Homo sapiens: one gene and its partner. The protein of the gene in region 1 purifies or fractionates together with the protein of each later gene. This does not show direct contact. Each region holds a gene or a part of one and is shown on either strand. Other genes may lie near its edges.

Region 1 (3,825 bases):
AAGGCAGGAGGATTGCCTGAGCCCAAGGGTTCAAGATCAGCCTGGGCAATAGAGCAAGGCCTCATGTCTACAAAACATTTTTAAAAATTAGTTAGGGGTGGTGGCATGCATCTGTGGTCCCAGCTACTCAGGAGACTGAGGCAAGAGGATCACTTGAGCCCAGGATTTCGAAGCTGCAGTGAGCCATAACTACACTATTGCACTCCAGCCTAGGTAACAGAGCAAGACTTTGTCTCTAGAAGAAAAAAATAAAGCATGCCAACACCTAATCATATTGATTTTTAAATGTCAAATATTAGACATTTTGATGAATTTCCTTAAAATATTTAGTCAATCTTATATGATAAGCATTTATACTATATAATCCATCATAAACTATAGCATTAAATATTTTTCTCTAGTAATTTCAGAAATTTTACTAACCAACATTATACAAAAATTTCAACTTTGAAATGAAAAAAAAAAACTGGGTTTTTTGGTTTGTTTCTTTGTTTTTAAGACAAGGTCTCACTCTGTCACCCAGGCCAGAGTGCAGTAGTGCAGTGATGGCTCACTGCTGCCTAGAAATCCTGGGCTCAAGCAATCTTCCCACTGCAGCCTCCCAAGTAGCTGGGACTACACCTGTGCATCATCATGCCTAACTAATTTTACTTTTTTGTAGAGATGGGGTCTCACTATGTTGCCCAGGCTAGTTTTGAACTCCTGAGCTCAAGCAATCCTCCTACCTCAGCTTCCCAAAGTGCTCGAATTACAGGTGTGAGCCACTGCACCAGCCAAACTAGACTATTAAAGGCTCCTTTCGTCACTGAGGAGGTACTATTTAATACATTACAGAAGCCCAAGTAACACGGTCTAATCACATAGTGACCAGATAAAGTGGGACTTGTACTACATCTGAAGCTATCATTCTTGTTTCCAAACATATGTTCAATAATTGCTTTCAGGGACATGAAGGTAAATTATTAAAATGAGAGTATTTAGCCTAATACATCATCGTTCTACTTATACTTCTGCAATCCAGAAGAGTACTGTGATGTGTGATGTGTCAACACCATTAAAGCACACCCATGAACACAGGTCTACTAGTGTTTGTAGGACACTGGTAAGAGGACTCCATCTATACTCACGGAGTTATGGCCAATTAAAGATGGGAATAGGTGGCCAGGTAAGGTGGCTCATGCCTATAATCCCAGCACTTTGGGAGGCCGAGGCGGGCAATCGCAAGGTCAGGAGTTCGAGACCAGCCTGGCCAACATGGTGAAACCCCATCTCTACTAAAGATACAAAAAAAACTTAACTGGGTATGGTTACGCATGCCTATACTCCCAGCTACTCAGGAGGCTGAGGCAGGAGAATCGCTTGAACCCAGGAGGCAGAGGTTGCAGTAAGCCGAGATCGTGCCATTGCACTCTAGCCTGGGCAACAGGGCAAGACCCTCTCTCAAAAATAAATAAATAAATAAATAAATACTATAATTGGACAGAAGCTAAAAAAACAACCGTTAAATCTTATTTATTTATCATAATAACAAGACGACAAACAATTAGTGTTTTTGAAGATATGGGATCATAGGTACTTGGTAGATATTTTTAACACTTGTACTTGAGACTGCAAAATAAAGGTCTGATGGAATACATAAAATCACTTAGTGAAAGGATACTCACATGGTCTATAAGTAACACCCCACAGATAATATGGTTTTGCAATACAGATCTGAAATACTGTTATCTTAACCAAGTGAGCAAAACTTAGCATCTCTAAGAATGGAAAAATCAGACATCATGTGGCTCTTGGTGTGATGCAATGGAAAATTTACAACTTAACCTACATAAAAAGCTTCCCTAATGTATTAAACCTAAATCATGAAGAAATAATCAAACAAATCTAAATTGCAGGTATTCTATGAGAAAACTAGGACCCACTTTTCAAAAATGTCAGTGCTAGATTAGAAATGATTAAAGAAACACAATAATCAAAAGCAATGTGTTAACTCTGGCTGTAGACAAAAACAAAGTGGCTATAAAGAACATATTTGGAACACTGGGGAACTCTCAATACAAACAGTATACGAGGTTATATTAGTGTATCAATATTAAATTTTTTGGGTATGAAAATTTCATGGTCTTGTGATCATGATGAAAATGCCCATGTTCTTAGAAAAATATGTTCAAATATTTAGATGTAAGGTGTCATTATGTCTGGATCTTATTTTCAAATTGTACAGACCAAAAGATGTGTATTCACATACTCATAAAATGGTAAGTGGAGAATCCAGGTGAAGGATAAATGAGTATTCATTGTACTAGTCTTTCTATAGGTTTGAAATTTTTCAAAATATAAAGTTGAACACAAAAACTTCAGTGTACTGTTGAAAAAAACTGAAGAGAGAGAGCCTTAAGATTTAACCTTAACTTCAGAATAAGAAGACAAGCATAGAAGTATGAGTTCTTAATACATACTCTTTTCTCCTCGTGGCTAATGAAAGCCTTATTTTCCTCTAATGTTTTATCTAGATCTTCATCAAGAAGTTTAGTTTCCACATTTTGAGTTTCTTCAGCGTTTTCTAGCTCCTCAACCAAATCCTCGTCTTCCATCAAATCTTCTAGACTATTTTCCCATGAAATGGTGGCTCTTTTTACATTTAATATTTTACTGTTTGAATTACTGTCTAGTGATACATCTTGAGAAGATTTGACAGGTCCAAATAATTTCTCTTGAGAGGAATTTAAAGTGTCTGGGACACAAACCTGTTAAAATATTCAATGTGACTTTTAAAACAGAAAAGACAAGAACTGTCCACTAGAAAATGATTATTTTATAAATTTAAGTCAAATGAACACTCAAGTGTTAAGGAAAAACTATTCAAACAAACATACAAACAGGAATCACCATCCCTAAAAGAACATTCTGATAGGAAAAAAGCTACTTACACATGTAAACTAGAGGAAAAATCTATCTTCCTGGGCTAAGTGTTCAGTATTAATCTTAGCAGAGGGTTTTCCAATCACCCAGAAGTACCAAATGAACAAGATGAATGGCAGAGCAGACAATTCATTCCAAAAATACTCATTAATTTATAACTGATGTTTATTACTAATTCTTATTACTAAAGGTCATTTTAATCCTAGCATGGGCAACTTTCAATCCTTTCTCATGTCTTCCTACTTGGTTAAATATTTACCTTTTTAATTTTCAATTATTTCCTAGGCTTACAGTATTAAGTAAAAAATATTTATTTCAAGAAAAACTGTTAATATTCTAATAATAAGAGGCTTAATAAAATAAATATTTACTTTTTGTGCAATGGCGGAGAACTTCAATACATTGAGTGTTTCATCATAGGCTAAATAACATTGGCTGATATTGACAATCATACAAATTTTCCCTTTACCATTAAAAAAACTTTGAAAATAGTGAGTCAGTTTACTTTCCCGGAAAGGCACATGCTGTTGAAACCTACAGAAAAAATTTTCAGAAAACATTGTAAGTTAAAAAACATCTCATGAAATCAGGGTGCTGAGACATTTTACAAAGAAATAATTAAGCCACCTATCATGAAATTAAACTTTAGGGTAGTGATTAGTTTCAGATGTAATAGTCCTTCTCAGTTTTCTTTTTATCTTTTCTTGTTTGTTTTTGTTTTTGTTTCTGTTTTGAGACAGGGTCTAGCTCGGTTGCCCAGACTGGAGTACAGTGGCACAATCAGAGCTCACTGTAGCCTCAACATCTTAGGCTCAAGCGATCCTCTCGCCTCTGCCTCCAGGGTAGCAGGGATTACAGGTGCCTGCCACCACACCTGGTTAATTTTTTTATTTTTATTTTTAG
Region 2 (3,825 bases), on another chromosome or scaffold:
CTATCCCACTTCGCATTTTTAAAAATAAATTTTTTTAACTGAATTCTCCTTTCCACATCTTCTACTGTCACTCTGCTTTCACCTTTCCCAACTCAAATGGAAAGCTGACTCTTCCCATTTCTAGAACTTACTCAAAACTTAAAAAGCATTTGGTAATGTTCCCTTCCCTTGCCCTGCAAAGATCCAGTCAGTTGCCAAGTCCCGATGGTTCTGCTTCCTCTGTCATCCCCTGCCTCCTGCCCTTTCTCACGTGTTACTTTATCAGTTCAGGTCCTTACTCCTGTCACCTGGCAGAATTCAACTGTATCCTTAACTATTCCTCTGTCTCTAGTCCCCTCTCCCCCTCCTCCATCAATGCATCCTTCATTCATGTTGCCAGTGTGACGTTGCCACTCCCTTATAACCCGTATTTCACATCAATCCTCTCTTCAAGAATCTCAATTCCCTCCTCATTGTCCAAAAGGGGAAAAAAAAGAAGGAATAAAAAACAATTCCAAACTCGTCTGCCAAGTACTTAAGACTCTCCACAACTTGAAGTCAGCTTACTTTTCAACTCTCACCTTCCAACTCTCTACTTCGCACACTACAAACAAATCAATTCCATCCACTTCTTTGTCTCCCTTACCTGTCTTCTCTGCCTTTGCTCATTTTGCCCTGTTAGCTCTACCTGGAATGTCCTTTATTCTTCTGCATACATTCAAAGCCTAGTTATCTCTTAGCATCTAAATTGATTAGGCATTCTCTGATACCCAAACCTCCACTGGCCCTAGCCCCAGCCTGAACTTCTCTACCCATCCGCTGACCCCTTAGGGCACTCTCTCATGGCACTCATTTTCTTTTGTAATTATTTGTTAAACAATTGTACATCTCAATATAGAATGCAGAGAAACAGTTCTGCCTCATCTTTCACTCCATCTATTTACTGCCCACTGCCTCTGAGATGGTTTCCATGAGAATCTTGCTTATTGAGATGTCAAAAGAGGAAGAGACTCATGCAAACACCCCATTAAATTCCAGGTAGTAAACACATCAATGAATACATGGGGAAATGCACAAAGCTAACTGATAAAGTCAAAGACACCTAAGAAATAAATATGGCACAGGTAACAAAAATCCTGAGTCAAGTAAAGGAGGGGGAAAAGGAGGTAAAAAGAACAGTGATGAAGCAGATCCCTCTCCATCCCCCAAAAGCAAGAAAGGATTACAGACCAAAAAAAAAAAAAAACCAGAAGTCCAGTCAGACTAAATGGCACAGACAATGCCACACCACCAGTCTCAACGGCAGGGTTACAAACAACTCGGGCCAGACCTTCAAAGCTCCTCCTGCAACAACTCAGAGCCACTCAATTCTCTCCATTTGCTAGCTGCTAGTTCTCCCTTTCTATTCCTAGAAGGTTTAATTCATTCAACAACTACTTTCAGAGTTTAATCAATAAATAAAGAGGTTACGCTAGGTCTTAATTGCTTTTGTCCTCCAAGTCCATGTGCCTTTCTTCCCCATGGGATGTGATTTATCCTCACAGCTTCCTGAGTCCTCCCAAGCAGTTGATGGCTCAGTTTTATTTGCCAATCTTCCAAACTCCACTGCCCACTGGACATCCTATGTGAATACCTTCCTCACAAATCTTTCTTCAAATCTAACATTAGTCTCATTTTGCTCAGCTGACCATTCCCTGGCTACTGTGGCAAAACATGACCTCTCTGTCCTTTATACTGCTCATTTAACATTTACAGCATCTCCTCTGTAACTTCATATGGCCTAAATCCTCTTGTCCTTACAGAATTAACATTTCCTAGTCCCCTTTAAATAATGTGTATTTTTATTAATATAATGGGTTCACTCACACACTGGTTCAGAATGTCTTGTTACCATTTACCAAAAAACTACTTGTGAAGGGCAGAGAAGGGATAAAGAGGAAGAAAGAATATACATAGGGAAAACAGAAAAAAAGGAAGTTACAAGAGAAGACAGGGGAGCCAGAGAGATGAAGGAAGCAACTAACATAAGTCATGATAACCTTGTGAGGTAAGAATTGAAATCTTTATGTTACAGAAATTGAAATGGAAGGCTGAGAAAGGTTAAGTCACTCGCTCAAATTTACCTATGAAGCTTTACATACATGGATGGCAATGGTTCCTTCTCCACTGAACAACACAAGGTTGATGACATAGGATAATATACTTAGAAACACCATCTGAATCATTATCAGGGTCATATTACAAAAGGTATTTAAAACTAACAAGAGTAGACCCTTGGTAATTATCTGAGAATTTCACCATGTCAACTCACTTTCAAAGTGCTTTATACGTATTTCAAAAAAATTGAAACACGATAAATCCTAATTTTTTTTTTTTTTTTGAGACAGCGTCTCCCTCTGTTGCCCAGGCTGGAGTGCAATGGCATGATCTTGGCTCACTGCAACCTCCACTTCCCAGGTTCAAGCAATTCTCCTGTCTCAGCCTCCCAAGTAGCTGGGATTACAGGCACCCGCTACCACACCCAGCTAATTTGTATTTTTAGTAGAGACGGGATTTCACCACATTGGCCAGGCTGGACTCATGCCACATTGGCCAGGCTGGACTCAAACTCCTGACCTCAGGTGATCCGCCCTCCTCGGCCTCCCAAAGTGCTGGGATTAAAGGCATAAGCCACCATGCCCAACCAAATCCTAAATTATTGATATTAAAATATAACAATCTAGTTAATGTACCTCAACTTATGGTTTGCTACAGTTTACAGTATCTCTTCCCAATCTCCACTAACAGTTATAAAACATCACACATTTCCTTGAGGCATAGATGTCTGTGTTAAAATGCTGCTTCAAAAAAGAAGGCAACACCACAAACTGAGTAGGCTTAGAAAATACTGCATACTCTAACAAAAAATAAAACTAATAAAAATAGCTAATATGTATTGAGTAATGACTATGCCAGACACCTCATTTGAATCTCACAACAATCTACGGGTAGATTTCTATTATCTCCATTTTACAGATGAAGAAATTGAGACATAGAAATTAAATACGCTGCCCAAAGACACACAGCTAAAAAGTAGAGCCCGGATTCCAATCCAAGCAATCTTAACTCTGAGCTCATGTTCCTACCCACCAAACTGCAATGAAAAAAGTGCACTACATTTAGAGGAAAATATTTAAAGGAAACAAACACTAAAATACAGAATTAGCTAAATCAAATGTACATCAACACAGAAACGTTTCCCAAGAGAAAGGGTACACGTGAATTATCCCTGCAGTCATGCATGGAATTACAAGTAAAATAATATATATCTGTAAAATATGTTCAAGATATTTCTATATTTTAAGATATTTTTATTTAAAAAAAAAAAAAGCAAAGAAAGTTAACTAAAGTAAAGATTACTAAAAAGAGCCTTCGAGGAAAAGTGCCCATTACAGTTTTGTACTGTTAAGTATAATGGACAAAGAATGGTACCTTAGCTCAAATAATGAAACGATTAGAGGAAGGCCGAGACAAAAATGTGAAGAACAGAGAAAAAGGAGCACAGGTTAACTACAGTGTCAAAAATTAAAACAAAGACTTGTGTTCAATAATACTTAACGGTAATAATGTTTGTAATAACAAAAAAAATGGAAACAGCCTAAAAGTCTATCAAGAGAGCAAAGGGGAAATAAATATGGTATAGACCTAAAATGTACTAACTTGTCACAGTAAAAATAAATGACCTAAATCTACATGAACCCACACTGATGAATTGAGTTGAAACTCAATTCATGAAACCACACTGCTAAGTGATTTTGAGTGGGGATAAAATAAACAGTATGCTGAACAAGAATACATGCAGTACCA

The links.
Region 2: the proteins of KIF20B (region 1) and ACSL3 purify together in Homo sapiens (affinity purification with mass spectrometry; one large-scale study listed by BioGRID and IntAct). This does not show direct contact.

Annotation. Positions count from the first base shown.
Region 1 is NC_000010.11:89,718,341-89,722,165, reverse strand, and holds part of KIF20B (kinesin-like protein KIF20B), read right to left. Parts: intron 3,457-3,825; coding exon 3,294-3,456; intron 2,748-3,293; coding exon 2,460-2,747; intron 1-2,459. UniProt on the Homo sapiens protein: Plus-end-directed motor enzyme that is required for completion of cytokinesis. Required for proper midbody organization and abscission in polarized cortical stem cells.
Region 2 is NC_000002.12:222,867,504-222,871,328, reverse strand, and holds part of ACSL3 (fatty acid CoA ligase Acsl3), read right to left. Parts: intron 1-3,825. UniProt on the Homo sapiens protein: Acyl-CoA synthetases (ACSL) activates long-chain fatty acids for both synthesis of cellular lipids, and degradation via beta-oxidation.